4 separate regions of the Homo sapiens genome follow, and all the other regions are linked to region 2. The links come from fine-mapping of genetic effects on gene expression. A gene starts in region 2. Each other region holds a variant in brackets. All regions are shown on one strand. Distances are between the middles of the regions. Region 1 overlaps AOPEP (aminopeptidase O (putative)). Region 2 holds the start of FANCC (FA complementation group C). Region 3 has its middle 15 kb from the start of FBP1. Region 4 overlaps FANCC (FA complementation group C).

Region 1 (5,205 bases), 350 kb after region 2:
CCAGCCTGGCCAACATAGTGAAACCCCGTCTCTACTAAAAATACAAAAAATTAGCTGGGTGGGTTGGTGGGCACCTGTAATACCAGCTACTTGGGAGGCTGAGGCAGGAGAATTGCATGAACCTGGGAGGCGGAGGTTGCAGTGAGCCGAGATCGCGCCATTGCACTCCAGCCTGGGCGACAGTGAGAGACTCCGTCTCAAAAAAAAAAAAAAAAAAAAAAGTCCAAGTACTTGTAATGATAACTTTTTACTAAGTTTACTTCATTATCTCCTTGTAGCCTATACTAATTTATCCTATATTTGCCTGGTAATTTATGCTCAATTATATGGGGGGAAATTACATTAACTCAATGGCAACGGGGGGAATTTAATTGCATGAGAAGCAGGAAATTCAGAGTTAACCTTAATTCTGCCCTTTTGCATTTTCCAGTTACAATTGGATCCTTCTGTACAGGATTGCAGAGCACAAGTATCCAGAATTGGGTGTTGAGTTCAGGGTAAGCGCAGGAGGCCCCGGAAACCCTGCTTCATGTTGAAGGAAGATGGTTGTCCTGCCTCCCAGTGGGCTGTGATCCTGGAGCACCTGCCTCTTCCTACCTCAGAGCTCAGGCCTGCAGGCAACAGAGCAGTGAGCTGGAGGCTGCCAGCGATGCTGGGGATGGCAGGCCCAGGGGATCGCAAAATCCTAACACCTTGGGCATCTCTAAGACATGGGGCTGCATTCCCACAGGCTATGGGAATGTCTTTCTATAGCGTTCGATATTCTTCTGTTCTGTGTTCCATCCCATTCAAGATAGCTGGTCTCATCCAGGCAGTCTCTGTACCATCTATCAATGGAATTAACCCACTGGCCCTTCTTACTCCTGTCATAGATTCCATCTTTAACCATGAAACACTAGTTTTCCTGTTTCTTTTCATAAATTGGCATATACCTCTAAAGTGGACTTATGACAGAAGCTTTTTCCACTTTCTACAGCACAAGAAAATAAAAAGAAAAATGTCTCTTATGATTATTCCTTCCTGCACCACCTCTTTTCAATTCTTTCGTCTGTCTTCTTTCTTTCCTACAGTGTATTGGCAGTTTTGTGAAAGCAAATTATAAATCTTATTTGGACAAGGAAGACTTTTTTCATAGCTGATTCTAGAAAAATTTGACAAAGTTAGCTAGCAACAAATAGTAGGGGCCCCAGCTTGTCACCTCTGCAGTGTGCCTGAAAACAAATTAAAACCAAAGCCCACCCCCACTCCCCAAAATCTATTGATAAAACAATAGATTTATTTAAATCTATGAAGGGGATGAAATTCTATCTGGACCCTTGGCGATGGTTACAAGCCCACACTCCAATCAGAAAATACATTCCTTTAGAATTTTTTTTTCATTTCCTACTGTCCTAATAATCTATATGCCAATCAGGTCCATCGCATACAGCTTGTTTTGATTAACACCTAACAACACTAAATTAAACACTACACATTTTTGAAAAACTAACACTGATTTTGGCACATGGCTAATTTGGTAACTATTTTTTAGTCCTGGTGAAAGTATTCAACAGAAAGCAGGTACATGTAGATTCTACTGGATAAACTGACACTGGCTTGACTATTACATGGGGCTAGCAATTTCTGTCGAGTATTTTATGAATAATTATCATGTTCATGGGGAAGGGGTGGGAGGTAGTAGAGGCAAAACAAAATATTGAAGGAAGGACAGGATTGGCAAGATAAAAACTGAGAAGAAATGAAATTGTCAGGAAGAAGTTATTGTTACACTCAAGAGAGGGCTTTTAGTGGGGGCTACAAAGATGATAATATTGGCTGGATGCGGTGGCTCACGCCTGTAATCCCAGCACTTTGGGAGGCTGAGGTGGGCGGATCATGAGGTCAGGAGGTCGAGACCATCCTGGTTAACACGGTGAAACCCCATTTCTACTAAAAAATACAAAAATTTAGCCAGGCGTGGTGGCGGGTGCCTGTAGTCCCAGCTACTCGGGAGGCTGAGGCAGGAGAATGGCGGGAGAATGGCGTGAACCCACAAGGCAGAGCTTGCAGTGAGCCGAGATCACGCCACTGCACTCCAGCCTGGGTGACAGAGTGAGACTTCGTCTCAAAAAAAAAAAAAAAAAAAAGATGATAATATTGAAATGCTGGACAGGGAGGGCATTTGGAAGGGAAAGGATTAAGATGTAAACTGGAAAAGGAAGAACTTTAGGGACTTCTGAGTAAAGAAACTGGATCATAGACCTTCATCATCAATAACTAACTAGCAATTTACACAAAAACACAAACCATTAAAGTAATTAAAAATGTAACCAGCAGCATTCAAACAAGGACAGCCTCATGGCATAAACTTCAAGAAGATGCAACTAAGGAAGAAATCTAAGATTCAAACACAGCTTCTAACTCTCCCTCTGCACCGACCCCCAGCCTCATGCTTAGCAGTAGCAGTACTGGTGAACTGCACAAACCCGGCAAATTCTCACAAATATCCACACATTTGGGAAAAAATAGGAATATCTTTGTCTGTCTTCTTTTTTGCCTGTGGAGGGGCTGGAAGTGTTTGCTGGCAAGAGATGAGTAAAACGTGGGAAATAAACAACTGAGGATGACTCTCTTCGGTGAACTGCTCATGTTCTAGGGCTGTCACCTAAATTGGAGGAACAATATTAATTGAGAGGGAATTAATTAATATTAACACAGTGGGAAAAAGCTGCACCCATATTAGGTCACAAGAATCTTGGCAGGGGACATTTAACAAGTTTTCAAGAGCAGCACAGCCACATTTTCCCAACAAAGGCTGTATACAACTCCAGTGGAGCTTCTCTCCTCCTCCCCTGTACACATAACATCCAAGTTTCAAACTGTAGCTCAGAGGGAGAGAAAAACAGGCATAGCACAAGTTGGAAAAGGAATCAAAGATAATGTTCCAATACATATGAGAATAAACGAAAGGTCAGGAGAGTGCTACCCAAGCTGAGAATGAGCAAAAAGAAACGTATGGCAACCATGCAAACTAACACAACAAC[AACT/T]CACATAGAAAGAAAGCAGCATAACACATAAAAGATAAGGAATCCCGCCTTGAAGAAAACATAATCCAAGGAATAGAAGAAAATTCTCCATGAATACTTTACACTATAAAATAAATTAACAGCTACAGAAAAAATAAAAACATAAATTTGGTAAAATGAAAGCTCAAAGATAAGTTGACAAAACAACAAAATGAAAAGAACATAGAGATTTCATGGCAAAGGTAATAAATTAAGGACCAGTACAAGAGCACTAATAGAAACGTCAAGGAAAAGAACAGACATTAAGGAAAATAACACTAACAATAAAGGGGTTGCTTCGGATTAATACAGGTCATGAAGAAGAAAAAGATAAACGCAATTGGAAAATAACAGGTATAGAGGACAAGGATGACATAACACAAGGAAAACTGGTAACCTTGAAATCCAGAACCCTGCAAGGGGGAAAAACGAATTCAAAAATACAATGAAGACATACTTATTGAAAGAGGAAAGAATAGAATCTAGGACTAAAAATAAAAATGCACACTATTTTTCCAGGGGGAAAAAAGATAGAAAACCATAGACACCAAGCCATTTCCTGATAAAATTACTAAACTTCAAAGATAAGGAAAGAATTCTTCTGTCATCTAAGAGGCAGAAAGGGGGAAAAGCAGGATGACTGCAGAAGTTTCCACAGCAGGATTTAATGCCAGAAAGCAGCTGAGCCATGTCTAAAAAGTTTTGAGGGCATGAAAATGTGACCCAAGAATATTATATCCAGTCAGTTTATAATTCAAATATAAAGAAAACAGGCAAGCATTCTTTTTTTTTTTTTTTTGAGACAGATTCTCGCTCTGTCGCCCAGGCCGGAGTGCAGTGGCGCGCAATCTCGGCTCACTGCAAGCTCCGCCTCCCGGGTTCACGCCATTCTCCTGCCTCAGCCTCCCGAGTAGCTGGGACTACAGGCGCCCCCCACCGCGCCCGGCTAATTTTTTGTATTTTTAGTAGAGACGGGGTTTCACCGTGTTAGCCAAGATGGTCTCGATCTCCTGACCTCGTGATCTGCCCACTTTGGCCTCCCCAAGTGCTGGGATTACAGGCGTGAGCCACCGCACCCGGCCCACAAGCATTCTTACGCAGTAAGAACTCAGAAATAGAGCCTGTGAGTCTGCAACGAACACAAATTTGATAATGAAATTCAGCCAGCAAAGAGCTGAATCAAAATAAAATATTCATGAAAAAAGGTAAAATAACTGGTGGTAAATACTGAAATCCTTTAACAAGCCAAGATTACACAACTGTGAAAATTATGGTTATAGTCAATTTTGTAAATGAAATAAATCTTAATATATAAAAATAATAATTAAGAAAAATTTAGAATTAAGGGGAAAGTAGTTAAAGTACATAACTATTTAATTCCTCATCTTTTTTTTTTTTTTCCCTGAGATGGAGTCTCGTTCTGTCCCAGGCTGGAGTGCAGTGGCGTGATCTCGCCTCACTGCAACCCCCGCCTCCTGGGTTCAAGCTATTCTCCTGCCTCAGCCTCCTGAGTAGTTGGGATTACAGGCACTCACCACCAATGCCTGGCTAATTTTTGTATTTTTAGTAGAGATGGGATTTCACCATGTTAGCCAGGCTGGTCTCGAACTCCTGACCTCATGATCCACCCGCCTCAGCCTCCCAAAGTGCTGGGATTACAGGCGTGAGCCACCGTGCCCGGCCAATTCCTCATCTTTTACAGTAGTGAATAAACTGATGTTTTCTACAAATGGAATATATAGGTAAAGGGAAAAAATAATTTCAACCTCTTAATTCTTTTATAATAATGTTTCTTAACCATAAAAAATTCTTTTAGAAAATAATCTTTCTTACATTTATCTTAAGTTTGGGAAGTTATCTCCACTTTAGTTGCTTTTTCATTCATTAAATTCAAGTAAAAGAAAATTTAAAACACTTCATTAAAATGCACATATAATATAATCCTATTTTTATAAAATTATTTCTGTCCAGTGACATCAATGTCTGTATACACACATATGCCATATATACATACATACACAGATACATGTATATATATCATGTATAACATATAAACATTGAGGGATAAATAGTATGATTTCTGGAGTGTCACTCACACAATATTAATTATAGGTATTTCTGGGTGGTGGGATTTTGAGTAATGTTTCACATTCTTTGTATT
Region 2 (5,205 bases):
GGATGTGGGTACCAAAATAGATAATTTCTCTCAAGAAATACATACTTTAATTGCTTTCTTTGCTGATAAATGCAGAACTTAAACGTCAACTCACTCTCGATTTGTTACCACAGAGGTGACTTTCTCATGGTCAAGGTGCCACGATGAGTGCCCCTCAGGCATGTATTTCCCTACCCAGGACTTGCTTTTGATTTATCCATGTCACACTATGCACACATCAAAAACACATCGACCTCTCTGCTGTAAAACAGAACGAAATCATGTCCTTTGCAGCAACATGGATGGAGCTGGAGGACATTATCCTAAGTGAACAAACTCAGAAACAGAAAATCAAATATTGCATGTTCTCATAAGCGGGAGCTAAACAATAGGTATACATGTACATAAGAATGGGAATAACAAGACACTGGGGACTCCAAAAAGGGAGAGGGTGGGAAGGGGGTGAGGGCTGAAAAATTAGCTATTGGGTACAATGTTCAATGTTTGGGGGACAGGTACACCAGAAGCCCAATCCCCACCATTACACAATATACCTATGTAACAAGCAAGCACATGTACCCCCGAATCTAAAATTAAAAAACAATCAAAAAGCACCGACTTCCTTAACTGGCATGGAATAGTTTCGAGAATGGATGTAAACACCGAATTCCTTAATGTAGTTGCAGATTCTGCCAGTTTTGTCTCAACCTCTGGATCGGTTCCTTTTTTTAACTACCTTTAATTCTTAAACAGATTGTTGCTATTGCTATGCTATATACTTATTGTATCACTTATAAATGTATAACCTCTGCAAATTAGTCTCTGAATTGAAAGTATTCATTGGTAAAACGGGTATTTCTTCACCATAGGAATAGTTGGACATGTTTAAATACTTGAGAGCTATTTTTATTACAAGCACACACAGCTTTGTGGTGTTTTTTGTTGAGACAGAGTCTCGCTCTGTTGCCCAGGCTGGAGTGCAGTAGTGCGATCTTGGCTTACTGCAACCTTCGCCTCCTGGGTTCAAGCAATTCTCCTGCCTCAGCCTCCTAAGTAGCCGGGAGTACACACTAATTTTTGTATTTTTAGTAGAGACGGGTTTTTGCCATGTTGGCCAGGCTGGTCTCAAACTCTTGACCTCAGGTGATCCACCCGCCTCAGCTTCCCAAAGTGCTGGGATTAGAGGTGTGAGCCACCGCGCCCGGCCTGTAGTGTGTTTTTGAACGTATATGTGAAGTTGTAGCTTTTTTTTTTTTTTTTTTGAGACGGAGTCTCCCTCTGTCGCCAGGCTGGAGTGCAGTGGCGCGATCTCGGCTCACTGCAACCTCTGACTCCCTGGTTCAAGCTATTCTGCCTCAGCCTCCAGAGTAGCTGAGATTACAGGCGCCCGCCACCGCGCCCGGTTAAACGTTTTGTATTTTTAGTAGAGACGGCGTTTCACCATGTTGGCCAGAATGGTCTCGATCTTCTGACCTCGTGATCCGCCCGCCTTGGCCTTCCAAAGTGCTGGGATTACAGGCCTGAGACACAGCGCCCGACCTAAGCTGTAGTTTTATGATTATGATTTATGGTTGTGAGGCATTGATTTAAGACATTTTAAAGCTTAAGTCGTCAGATCCTAGAAGAAAAAAAAATTCACCAAGACAAGCTAATGCCATTGTCATAAATGGGAGTTTGGAGAAAATTTTATTAATATTTGTTTGGGTGGTTTATGTACAGCGTTGAACTGATTTGAACCCCGACCAAACACTGTATGGAACTAATGTACGGTAGGGGAAATCATTAACTGAAGATGCCTTTTTTGTTGCTATTGTTTAGAACGCAGTTAGAAAATCTTATTTTAGAGGTTTTACCCCGTTGACAAAGCCTCAACTTTTCTTCAAAAGAACTAATTTCCATTTTACCTCCCCTACATTTTGAACAGAATATGGAAGAAGCCAGCGCCCCTTCTCCGCGGGCGCTGCTGCAACCCTGCTCCCGCCGGGGCTTCCGCGCGAAACCGGGAACACTGGAGCAGTACCGACTCCGCTCGCCTAGAACCCGCCCCAGCCGGGCCCACTTCCGCCAGAGCCCTGGCCGCGCCCGCCCCGCCCCACGGACCCGAGATTCGTCGGAATTTTCCCGCGACGCCGCGGGAGCGCGCGGGGCCGCTAGCCAGGCCCCAGAATGCACTGCTGACACGTGTGCGCGCGCGCGGCTCCACTGCCGGGCGACCGCGGGAAAATTCCAAAAAAACTCAAAAAGCCAATACGAGGCAAAGCCAAATTTTCAAGCCACAGATCCCGGGCGGTGGCTTCCTTTCCGCCACTGCCCAAACTGCTGAAGCAGCTCCCGCGAGGACCACCCGGTAAGCGGCAGGCCGCAGAACGCAGCGAGGGCGGAGGCTTCCCTCGGGGGTCTGGCCGACACGTCAGCGGCGAGAGCGGGAGGAGGAGGCGAGGGGCAAGAGGGAAGGCTCGCGAGAGCGGGTGGGCCAGGCGCGCCTTGCGGTGGGCGAGAGGGGTTCCCGCCGGCGCAGGGCTGTGGCTAAGGCTGAGGCGGGAGGCGGGAGGCGGGAGGCGGAAGGTGGCGGGCGGTGCCAGCCCGCGGGGCGGGGCCAGGGCGGGGAAAGCGGGGGCGGGAGCCGGCGCTGGGGTCGCGCGGAAGGGAGCCCCCGGAGAGGCGGGAGCCGGGTGTTGGCGTTTTGGTTCTTTTTGTTCATTGAGCGCAGGCAGCTATGTCTTCTTCAAAGGAGAGGAGCAAAGGTGAATTTCTCTGCCTCGGACTCGTGGGAGCCGTGAAAAGCTCGCCCCTTTGAGCCGGTCGCCCTCTACAGCTGGCCTCGTCCTCCCCGTCCCTCACACCCCTGCCCCCAAACCCCATTCGCCGGGGCGCCAGGAGGGGCGAGGTCCAATTAGAGGAGCCCGGGGCGCGGCTGTTACCCCTCCCGCCCTCCGCCTTTTATTCCCGGAGGGAGGCGGGTTCGCAGAGGCCAGTGTCTTCCCTCCATTCTTTTTGTGGACGCCAGGCCATATCTTCAAAGCCCGTGAGAGATTTTTCAGGTGCTGTTTGTTGGTTTGCTCTTTTTAATTTTTTAGGTGGGTGCGTTTACAACTACGAACCCTCTATGATCTTATGTGTCCAGCGCACCGAATGGGGGAAAAGACTTGGAGTTTTATAACATGGGAAATTGGGTACCAGAATCTTAAGGGAAGAGACCAAGGAGTTTTCTAGCAAAGTCCTGTATGTGCCTGGACTTTTGTTCTAATCTGAAACTTGGAAAACTCCCGGGCATCTGATTTTATTCTAACTTGTGCCCCATTTAATGCATCTAAACTGTGATGTGATTTGACTTAGCATTTATCAAATGAGCAGAGCACTTTTGGGCCACCCAACTTCAGCTCTTTGTGGCTGTCACTCACTGTCAGTGATATGCCCTCAGACAGATCGTTTTCTCCTTACTCCCCTGAAAGGTTGTTACAAACAGTAGAATTCATACCATGTGTTGAGATCATTCATTACCTAAGCTTAGATGGAAAACATGTTCATTGCGACTTTATACATTAAACTTGAATTGATGTTTCAATGTTATGTGCTGTACCAGAGTCACCTGGAAATAAGCACTCATATACATTATTCATATACAAGAAAGGCTGCATCGAAAAAGAATTTGTTTTCCTAGATATATCAGAGATCTTTTTCACCAACCCACTACTCCCAGTAATAGAGCCTGCTTCTTGAGAACTGGACTAATTATACTTTGTATATTATACATTCGAATTTATTTTTGCTTTATTCGGTCATATTTTCTCTTGATTTCTCCAAAAACGTTTACCAAGGCATCAGAAAAGAAAAGCAGGCTCTATATTGGTATTTTTTGTTTTGTCCTCTAATAAAAAGCATTAACTTGATTGATTGGCTGGTTGTGGAAGATGTGTTGCTGCATGTATGTGCAACTGTGCATGTACATTTTAAAACAAATGGTACTTTTAACCAGTTCCATATTTCAGCAGGTAGTTCCAATAACAATTATACAAATTTCGTGTTTATGAGAACCAGCTACAGGGAGGCCAGCCTGGCCAGTAGAAAGTTGGATTGATTATCTGGGCCATGGAGAGAGCCAGAGGAAACTCACATGAGTGGTAGTTCCAAGTTGGTAGTGTTAGGGCCTCAAATCGGGCTGGAAATGAGCACCAAATGATTTTTAAAAGTTTTATTTTAGGCTGGGATATGTGCATTCTCTGTCTTGTTTGTGGATCTTGAGTGATTGACTTAATGTGAAAAAATACATACAGGAGAAGCACCTTGGAAGTTTTGCAATGTTTTAATAAAAATGCAGAAGTGGAGAAGGAAAGGCAATTCAGATAACAGGCAGAGCATGGTGGCTTATGCCTGTAATCCCAGCACTTTGGGAAGCGGAGGCGGAAGGATCACTTGATCCCAGGAGTTCGAGTCCAGCGTGGGCAACAGAGAGAGCCCTGTCTCTACAAAAAGTTAAGAAATTAGCCGGCCATAGTGATGCGGGGCTGTGGTCCCAGTTACTCGGGAGGCTGAGGTGGAGGATCACCTGAGTTCAGGAGGTCGAGGCCACAGTGAACTGTGATTGCGCCACTGCACTCCACACTGGGCAGCAGACTGAGACCGTGTCTGGAAAAATAAAATTGGTAACAATTCAGATTGGCCACCAGAGTTGGACTGGGGGCTAGCAGGCAATGGTTTTACCTCCATTTTGAGATTGGCATCTTCTAACTCAAGTTTAATACGGGACTGAGGGTAAGAGACCTGCATGCCTTTTATGTCAGCATTACATTATCTTGATTATGGCAGCTTTATAGTAAGTTTTGAAATTAAGTAGTGTAAGTTATCCAATGTTTTTCTTCATTTTCAAAATTGTTTTGGCGGTTCAGGGTTCCTTACATTTCCATATAAATTTTAGTATCAGTTTGTTATTTTTTTTCAGAAAACCGTGCTGTGATAGACTTTGTAGGAATTGCATTTAATTTTGCATATCTATTTGGGGGAGAATTGCCATCTCATCATGAACATGGAATCTCTTTCCATTTGTTGAGCGCTTTAATTTCTCTTAGCAGTATTTAGTAATTTTCAGTGTACAAATTTTGCCCTTTTGTAAATTAATTTTGAAGTTTTATTTTTGATGGTATTGTGAATTGAATTATTTTTAAAATTTCATTAAAATTTTTTTTATCGATAAAGTGAAAGCAAGTTTTTTGTTTTTTTTTTGAGACA
Region 3 (5,205 bases), 660 kb after region 2:
TCTCCCAGGAATCCAGTCGCCTCCAGTGCCTGCTGAAGCAAGAAAACCCTCCAAAGGATGACTCCAGCTGTGTCTGCATCATAATTAAGGCTGCAAAAACCCAAAATGAATGAAGTCTCCCCAGCTAATGTGCCACTTCTAATTTAATCTAATTGGCCTCTGAAAGAGAGCCTTGGCCTGCCTCAGAGGCAAAATCTTCCAAATGAAGTGAATTTAAACTAATTTAAGCTAACTAATTACAAACTGGGGGGTATTGTCACAAGACAATTGTTATTGTTCTTTGATTGCTTGCTCAACTGGATTATTTGCTCATTACCTTCAGAGCTGTTGGGACTTTCATGGGGTGCCCCTTGCCGCACATCAATAAGGCATTCTACAAGGCAGCCTGGAGTGGAGGGTCCCCACACCAGATTGGCATGGGAGCGCTGAGGATTAGCTTGGCTTTCTGCGTGTTTGGAGAATCTTAAAGCAAATGCACAGCATGTGCTGCTCATTCAAATAACCTGCAGCTAACTACACCTCTTTTTGGAGACGTAAGTTTTTCTTTAGCTTCGGGATGTAGGTTATGAGTTTTGAGGTCATCTGTTGAACCAACCTCTTTATTGTTCAGTCGTTCTGACCTTGAGATGCAGCTCGTTATACCTGGGTAGAGATCTGAAGCAAAAGTGGGGAGAAAAAAAAGACCTGTATCCAAGCCTGTTTCTCAGCAGCTGTGTGAGGTAGCTGTGCTGCCACACCTCTCTGAGCCACAGGCAGAGATCTGGTGGAAAACGCATGAAATTTGCAGACCCATCTATCTGCTGCTTCTGGTTTGAGCTTCAGTTCCCTCCTCCCAGGCATGTTAAATTTAGCCTACAGCTGCCTCCTTACTTATTTTAAGTGTAACAAATGTTATGTTACATTTGGGACCTGTGTGGCTAAAGGCTTCTCTGCACAAAGGGAACTGTCACTTAACTGGATGTGAAAGGGGCTGTAACCTACTCTTGTGACAAGCAACCATACTTCAACCACTCACAGGTGGCCAAGTCTTCCAACTGTGTTCGAGTAAGGCCAACGCTGAGCTGTAGCCAATCAGGCTGTTTCTCTGCCTCACTTCTGTTTTCTGTGCTTCACTTTCCGTTCTCTGCCCGTAAAGACTCTCACCACACGGCAGCACCAGAGACGCTCTGAACCTCTTCTGGTCAGGGGGCTGCCTGATTCCCATATCATTCTTTGCTCAATTAAACTCTGTTAAATGTAGTTTGCCTCAGTTTTCCTTTTAACAGGCAGAAACTACCACCTCACAGAATTGCTATGAAGACTGAACATGGTCACTCTGTGAAAACATTTCATAAACTGTGTGTCGCTTGCGAATGCTGTTATTTTTCTCATCTGTAAAATAAAGGAATTCAACCAGGGGATTTGAATAGTTTCTGTATTCATTTCCTGTGGCTGCCATAACCAAGCACCACAAATCGGGTGGTTCATAGCCACAGAACTGTGTCCTCCTGCGGTTCTGGAAGCCGAGTCTGAAATGAAGGTGGCGGCAGGGCTGTCCTTCCTCTGACGGCTCAGGACGAGTCCTCTCCTGCCTCCTCCAGCTCCAGGCGCTCCTCAGCATGTGGCTGCTTCGCTGGGTCTCTGTCCCACCTCCACATCACCTTCTGCTCTGTGTGTTTCAAATCTCTCTCTGCCTTTCTCTTGTGAGGACACTTGTAATTGGGTTTAGGGCTCACCTGGGTAATTCAGGATGATCACATGGCAACAGCCTTCACTTGATTACATCTTCAAAGACCCCATTTCCCAAATAAGGCCACCATCCCAGATTCTGGGTGGACACTGTGGGCAGTGGCACCATATTCAGCCCACTGCAGCCCTCCTTAGCTCTGTGGTCCTATCTTCTTCTGGATGTTACCATTTGGTCTAAATTTCAACCAGTCTGAGTTGCATATTGAGTGGTACAAAAGCAATGGCCACATTTGATGTTTCTTGTCTGAGAATGTATGTTTCTTCAATATTTCCATGAAAAATATGCATCGAATATTTTACTACGGTAGGAGTAGGGGCCAAGTATAGGGCAAAAACTTATTGATTACAAGTTTATGCAAATTAGACAGCAAAATGAAAATTTCAAGCAGCCTTGGCACTACAACAAAAAAGTCTGTCTAGCAAGAGATTGGATTTAATTATTAAGAAAGTTGGGGGCCGGGCCTGGTGGCTCATGACAGTAATCCCAGCACTTTGGGAGGCTGAGGTGGGTGGATCACCCGAGGTGGGGAATTTGAGACAAGCCTGACCAACATGGAGAAACCCTGTCTCTCCCAAAAATACAAAAATTAGCTGGATACGGTGGCACATGCCTGTAATCCCAGCTACTCGGGAGGCTGAGGCAGGAGAATCGCTTGAACCCAGGAGGTGGAGGTTGCGGTGAACCGAGATTGCACTATTGCACGCCAGCCTGGGCAACAAGAGCGAAACTCTGTCTCAAAAAAAAAAAGAAAAAAGAAAAAGAAAGAAAGTTGGGAGAGTGACTGTCCCACTGTGCTGTTTGATAGAATCAGTGTCTCTGGGTTAGTGGCTTTTGGCAGATGTCTGCTAGTCTAAAAAGCCACAGTTGAGGGTAGAAAGAAGAAGATTCTAGAAAGAATGCTCATAATGGACAATAATAGCTCTTTCTACTTCCGGGGAATCTTTCCATTTGGGAACACTGAAGTGCTTTGCAGACAGTCGTTACAATTACACAAGCGTTGGGATGTCCATGTTCTCGCTTCCTCATGTTAGACATTGAGCCACTGAGGAAGTCTAAGGACATGGGGTGTGTCATTGGAGAAGTGCCCCTAGCTGACTGTTGAGGGTAAGCAGAGCCACAGCCTCCAGATTTTATTCAAGGTGAAATGGACATTGGGTGAGCTCTCTTGTTCTCAGATGATCTGCTTTATAGTACAGGACTAGGGCCATAGCAGTTGCCATCAAAGTGGCTGGATTTCAATTACCTCCAGCCTGTGGACTGACAAGGTCTGGGTCGACTGTCCCTCCCTCCCTTAGGCTGGACGTGCTGAGGCACATGTGATGGGGAGTTGCTGGGCTGGTGACCACCTGACATGTCCTCTCTGTACTTCCTTCCCCAGCATC[ACTG/G]CCCACCAGTTCCTGCTCTAGCCAATGACTCAGTCTCAGCGCACCCACTCGTCAGTACTCGCATGGAGAAGAACTCTGACTTCTCTGATTTCTGTTCCAAGAAGGCGGTACATGGACAGCAGTCCTCTTGGAGGACTATGGAGATGGCTCTTGATGGGCCTTGGAGAGGGGCTCCAGCTCTGAGGACTGTGCTCTGGGACTTGTGCTGGTTGTTTGCACCTCCAGGTCCATTTTCCATCCTTCTCCACCTGCTCGAGGCCCTGGGAGGCTGACCCGCAGGACGGCATCAAGGGTTCCCCTGCCCCAGGGCTGCCAGCTGGGTTCAGTCAGTGCACAGCCTCAGAGGGAAAGCGAGTCTGGACACTTTATTCTGGTGCCCTCAGGGGTACCTTGGACTGGCCACAGCCCTCGACCTGCCATCTTGGCTCCTGACAGGCAGCTCCTCCACTCTGCCCTCTCTGTGTGGGGTTCTGGCAAACTTCAAGCGTAGGGGTAGCAGTGAAGCCCCCAGCAGTCACTGTGAGCCCTGAGGCATCGCAGCCCCTTATGCCTTTCTTCCCCCCACCCCCGTCCACATGGTTGTGGAGGATTCCTTTGTGAAATTCTCCTGAAATCATCCTGAGTGTGCCATCTGTTTCCCACAGGGCCCCTGACTGGTTCCTTTGTTTATAAAAATGGAACAGTAATGCCCATCTCATGGTGTCTTCAGGATTAAATGGGTGAACACATGAGAAGCATTCAGCATAATGACCCGTAGTTTTACATGCTCAGTAAGTGCTAGCTCGAGACACATTTTCCAGTGGAGCTGGTGAGTGCGTCAACTCAGTTCAATTCAATCCTGCCAATATTTATGAAGCCCCCACTAGGTGCAAGGCCAGAGCCAGCCATTTCCCAAGTGACAAAGGTGCGTGACTGAATAGGCACAATCCACTCCCTCCGAACACTTGGAGCCCTCACAAGCGGCGGCCTCATTGCCCTCTCTCTCTCTCTCCACTTCAGTCACCATTTGACAAATATTTCCTGAGGGCCTACATTCTTCGGGGTGCCATGTTAAGAACACCTTGGGATAAAAGAGTGAGCAGAATAGATACCTCCGCTCTCAGAGAGTGAACAGCCTGCTGGAAGGAGACAGACATCAGTCCATCACTCGGATCCCTACGTTAGCGAGTGTGTTTCACAAACTGGCATCAGGGCTCTAAAGGAAGAAAACTGGCTTCTGTAAGGAATGAGACCTGGCCTGCATGGGGGTCAGGGGATGTTTTGCTGAAAACACAAACGTAGACACAACCCAAGCCAAGCAAAAGGCGGTGGCCAGGGCAGTGCACTCAGAACACCATGCAAAGGCCCTGCACAGGGAGGGCGCCATGTGGCTGGAGCAGAAACAGGGAAGCAGGGGCAGCTGGTGGGACATGGAAGATGACACTGGAGAGGCTGGGGGGCCAGATGGTGCAGGGTCTGTAGGCCAGGGTTAATATTTTAGCCCTTATTCAAAACACACACAACCAAAGTCATGTGTGTGTGTGTGTTCTCAGCTATTTCAAAATGTTGCTTTGGCTGCAGCAAAGAGAATGGGCTGGAGAGTGCAGGATAGATATGAAAGAGCCACGAGGAGGCCTCTGCTATAGTCTGGGAGGAGGATGACTGACAGCTTGGGCCGGAATGGTGCCAGAGGAGAAGGGAGAACTGGACCTGTTCAAAGACATCAGGAAAACACAAATTATGGGGGGTGGGGTGGGCTGAATATGGAGCGGGGGGCGGGGAATGAAGGAGAAACTTGGGGGTGGGCTGGATATGGAGGGTGAGGGGGGCTGTCAAAGAAAAATCCTAGACTTCTGGCTGATTGGTAACGTCATCACCCAAGAAATAAAATATTGGACAAAGATCTGGCTTGGTGTGGAAGGTCAGGAAAGACCATGAATTCAGTCTTGTGTGTGACATGACTTTTGAGACATCGAGATACAGAAATCAAGAAGCAGCTGGATATGGGGATTTGGAGCTCCAAGGGGAGAGCTGAGCTGGTGATGTGAGTTTCACAGCCATTAGAAAACAAATGGTAATTAAAGCCATGGGCTGGCCCCGGAAGACTGCCCA
Region 4 (5,000 bases), 150 kb after region 2:
ACACCCAGTGGATGTCTGAAACTGTGGATAGTACCAAACCTGATTGCCACCAATCATAACACATTTCTGTATTCCACTCACAACTTTAATGTCTTTTCCATCGTAACTAAGCACTTATCATATATGATGGCTGTAATTTTTGCCATGTGAGATGCAACGACAAAACTAACAGAAATTTTTTTCCTTCTTTACAATTTCACAGATAGATGATTTGTTTTTACTATAGATCTCAGCAACCTCAGCATATGATTTTTTTCTTTCCTTATTAAGTTGAAAACTTTCACCTTTTCACTTAAAGAAAGCACTTTACAACTTCTCTGTGGCATATCCAAATTGCCAGCCCCAGTGCTCTTGGACTTTGAGGTCATTATTAAGTATTAATAAAATAAGAGTTACTTGAACACAAGCACAGTGATACTGTGACAGTTGATCTGACAACCAGTATGGCTACTAAGTGACTAACGAGCAGGTAGTGTATATATTATGGATACCCTGGGTAAAGGGATGATTCATGTTCCAGATGGGACAGAGTGGGACAGCATGAGATTTCATCATGCTACTCAGAACAGTACACAATTTAGGCCAGGTGCGGTGGCACATGCCTTTAATCCCAGCACTTTGGGAGGCTGAAGTAGGTAGATCACCCGATTTCAGGAGTTCAAGACGAGCCTGGCCAACATGTCAAAACCGCATCTCTACTAAAAGTACAAATTAGCTGGGCGTGGTGGCTTATGCCTGTAGTCCCAGCTACTCGGGAGGCTGAGGCAGGAGAATCACATGAACCTGGGAGGTGGAGGTTGCAGTGAGCTGATATTGCATCACTGCACTCCAGCCTGGGCAACAGAGCAAGGTGCCATCTCGAACAAAACAGTGCACAATTTAAAACCTTTGAATTATTTCTGGAATTTTTTCATTTAATATTTTTGGACCACGGGTGACCATGGCTAGCTCAAACTACAAAAAGTAAAACTGCAGATAAAGGAAGACTACTTTTGATGCCTTGGGGCCATGGAGAACAAAAGAAAGCTTAGTGGTTTGTGGTAGCACCAGAGAATTGACAGTGCTGCCGATGGAGGCTGGCATAGCTCAACAGAATTGGGAGGAAGCACTTAGCTCATGACCTGTTCTTTGGGAGGGGAAGAGAAGCCTCTGGCTTCTCAGGGGCCTACTAGAGGGACTGGTATCTGTCTTGCCTGACTCACAGCACTGACAGAGAAATGGCGTAGTTTGGAACAAGAGAGCTCAGCAGCTTGTTGCAGCACTGGAGAATCTGCAATACCACAAACGGACACTAGAGGGGAGGGGAAGATTAGGAGCTCTTGAAAAACCAGTAAAGCCCTCTAATTTGGAAATCACACGCATAAGCCCAGAGAAGATATATCCCTGGAAAAGGTTTGAGGGACCTCCAGAATGTCTAGCCGGGTCCACTGGTGAAAGCCTTCCTTTGTACCATGTTAGTCGATAAAGACTGAGAGAAGTAGATGTTTCTTTAAATGTACAAAATACAACAAAAATAACAAGACACAAAGTAAACCAGGGAAACGTGGCATAATCAAGGGATGAAAATAAATCTACAGAAACAGACCCTAAAGAAGCAGAGATCTATGCATTACCTGACTAAGTATTTGAAATAATTGCCTTAAGGGATCTCAAGGCACTACAAGAGAACACAGATAAACAACTAAATGAAATCAGGAAAACAATATGTGAGCAAAATGAGAATATCAACAAAGAGATGGAAACTAGAAAAGAACCAAACAGATATTCTGGAGCTAAAGAACCACAATAAGTGAATTGAAAAACTTACTAGAGGGGTTCAGCAGTAGACTTGATCAAACAGAAGAAAGGGTCAGAAAACTTAAACACAAATCATTTGAAATTATTAAGTCAGAGAAACAAAAAGAAAAAAGAATGAAGGAAAGTCAAGAAAGCCTAAGACACTTGTGGAACAACATCAAATGGAACAATACACACATTTTGTGAGTCCTAGAATAAGAGAGAAAGGGGCAGAGAACTTATTTGAAGAAATAATGGTGAAAACTTCCCAAATATTAGGAAGGAATTGGATATCCTAATTTCAGAAGCTCAGCAGACTCCAAAGAATGAACCCAAAGAGGCCTACAACAACATACACAAAAATCGGATTGTCAGAAGTTAAAGACATAATCTTGAAAGCAGCAAGAAAAAAGTGACTTGTCATGTACAAGGAAGGTTCCAGAAGATTATCAGTGGATTTCTCAGCAGAAATATTACAGGCCAGAAAGGAGTGGGATGATACATTCAAAGAGCCAGGGAGGAAACAAAACAAAACAAAAAACCCTTCCAATCAAGAATACTGCATCTGGGCTAAATCATCCTTCAAAAAATGAAGAAAAAAAGACATTCCCAGATAAACAAAAGCTGAAGGAGTTCATCACCATTAGACCTGCCTTACAAGAATTGCTAAAGGGAGTCCTTCAAGTTGAAATGAAAGAATATTAGCAACATGAAAGCATGCAAAAATATAAAGCCTTCTGGTAAATGTAAATATACAGACAAACACAAAATCTTATAATACCGTGTTGTATAGTACAGTTGTCCCTCAGTATCCAGAGAGGATTGGTTCCAGGACTTCCCACACATACCAAAATCTATAGATGCTCCAGTCCCATAGTAAACTGTATGGAACTTACAGATACAAACGTTCAATCTTTGGGTTCTACATCCTGCAAATACTATATTTTTGATCCATGATTTAGTTGAATCCATGGATACAGAACCCATAGATATAGAGGGCTGAGTGTACATAAATCACTTTTTAATTCTGGTATAGAACTTAAAAGATAAAAGTGTAAAAATAACTATTAAACTGTGTTGATAGATACAAAATAGAAAAGGATGTAATTTGTGATATTGATAACATAAACTGGGGAGGGAAATGTAAATGAGTAGAGTTTTAGTATGTGATTGAAGTTATCTCGTTAGGTTGTTATAACTCTAAGATGTTTAATGTAATGCCCATGGTAACAACAAGAAAATACCTGTAGGAGATGTACA[A/G]TGGAAAATGAGAAGGAAAGCATGTCACTATGAAAAAAATCAATGAAACCCAAAGGAAGGGAATAAGAGAAAATCGTGAACAGAATAACTACTAGGTATATGGAAAACAACAAAATGGCAATAGTAAGTCCTTCTCTATCAGTAATTACTTTAGGTGAACATGAATTAAACACCCCATTCAAAAGATGTGGAATAGCAAAATAGATCAGAAAACAAGATCCAACTATATTCTAGCTACAAGAGACTCACTTGAGATACATAGGCTGAAAATGAAAAGATGGAAAAATGGCAACCAAAATAGAGCAGGCATAGCCATACTTATATCAAACTATCAAAAGAGACAAAGAAAAAGATTATATAATAATAAGAGTGTCAATTCAGGGAGATACAACAATTACAATAATATATGCACTTAACACAGCATCCAAATATATGAAGCAGATACCAATAGAATTGAAGGGAGAAAGAGACAGTAACACAATAATAATAGATTTCACCACCCCACTTTTAATAACATATTGATTAACCAGACTGAAGACCAATAAAAAAATAGAACTTGAATAATGCTGTGGACCAATTGGACCTAATAGGCATATAGAGAACATTCTACCCAATAACAGCAGAATATACACTCTTCTCAAGCACATATAGAACATTCTGTAGGAAAGACCACATGTTAGGCCACAGAACAAGTCTTAACAAATTTAAGAAGACTGAAATCATAGTAACTATTTTTTCTGACCACAAGGGAATAGAAATCAGTAACAAAAAGAAAATTGGAAAATTCACAAATATGTGGAAATTAACCCACTCTTAAACAACCAGTGAGTCAAAGAACAAATTACAAGAAACACAGACAATAACTTGAGACAAATGAAAATGAAAACCCAACATATCACAACCTATGGGATGCAGCAAAAGCAGTTCTAAGCAGGAAGTTTATAGTGGTAAATGCCTACATTAAAAAAGAAGAAAGTGTACATGCTTTTGAAGGAAGAAAAAAAAAGAAAATAAGAAGGATCTCAAATCAGAAACCTAACTTTACACCTCAAGCAACTAGAAAAAGAACAAACTAAACCTAAAGTTAAAAGGGAGAGACTAATAAAGATTAGAACAGAAATAAATAAAATAGAGAATAGAAGAAAAAACTAAGAGTTGGGTTTTTGTAAAGATCAGCAAAATTGACAATTCCTTAGACTAAGAAAAAAAAAGAGAAGACTTAATAGCAAAAATCAGGAATAAAGAATAGAAATTAAAACTGATGCCACAAAAATTAAAAAGATTGAGACTACTATGAACAATTATATACCAACAAATTGAATAACCTAGAATAAATAAATGTCTAAAAATATACAGCCTACACGACTGAATAATGAAGAAATAAAAACATCTGAACAGACCTACAACTAGTAAAGAGATTGAATTGGTTATTCAGAACCTTCCAACAAAGAAAAAAACCAGGACCAGATGGCTTCACTGGAGAATTCTATCAGACATTTAAAGAAGAATTAACACCAGTCTTTCTTAAAGTCTTCCAAAATATTGAAGAAGAGGGGACATTTCCAAACTCATTTTGTGAGCAAGCATTACCCTGACACGAAAATCAGGCAATGAAACTACATGAAAACAGATTAATATCCTTCGTGAATCATGATGGAAGGATTCTCAGCAAAAAGGGAATTCAACAATACGTTAAAAAGATATGTATAAACACCATGACTGAATGAAAATTATTCCTTGAATACAAGGATGGCTCAACATACAAAAATCACTATATTGCACCACATTAATAAAATGATGAACAAAAACCACATGGATCATCTTAATGCAGAAATGGCATATGACAAAACTCAATACTCACTTATGGTAAAACCTTAAACAAATTAGGAATAGAAGGAAATGACCTCAATGTAGTAAAGTAGTAAAGGCCATATTTGAAAAATCCATAGCTAACATCATACTCA

The links. PIP is the estimated chance that this variant, and not a neighbour inherited with it, causes the effect.
Region 1: its variant is fine-mapped to the expression of FANCC in whole blood (TOPMed, PIP above 0.99).
Region 3: its variant is fine-mapped to the expression of FANCC in prefrontal cortex (ROSMAP, PIP 0.95).
Region 4: its variant is fine-mapped to the expression of FANCC in whole blood (INTERVAL, PIP 0.98).

The regions. Positions count from the first base shown.
Region 1 is chr9:94,959,652-94,964,856 of GRCh38, reverse strand. All of the region lies in intron 9 of AOPEP (aminopeptidase O (putative)), which reads right to left. Among named protein-coding and RNA genes, the nearest start is that of AOPEP-AS1, 17 kb to the right of the region's middle. The variant AACT/T (reference allele first, on the strand shown) is at 3,024.
Region 2 is chr9:95,314,647-95,319,851 of GRCh38, reverse strand. It overlaps FANCC (FA complementation group C), which reads left to right and starts at 2,143. Exons shown (of 15, transcript NM_000136.3): 1 at 2,143-2,326. RefSeq lists a silencer at 2,472-2,791.
Region 3 is chr9:94,652,264-94,657,468 of GRCh38, reverse strand. No RefSeq gene overlaps it. Among named protein-coding and RNA genes, the nearest start is that of FBP1, 15 kb to the right of the region's middle. The variant ACTG/G (reference allele first, on the strand shown) is at 3,112.
Region 4 is chr9:95,164,409-95,169,408 of GRCh38, reverse strand. The region is part of intron 6 of FANCC (FA complementation group C); the gene reads left to right. Among named protein-coding and RNA genes, the nearest start is that of MIR3074, 81 kb to the right of the region's middle. The variant A/G (reference allele first, on the strand shown) is at 3,037.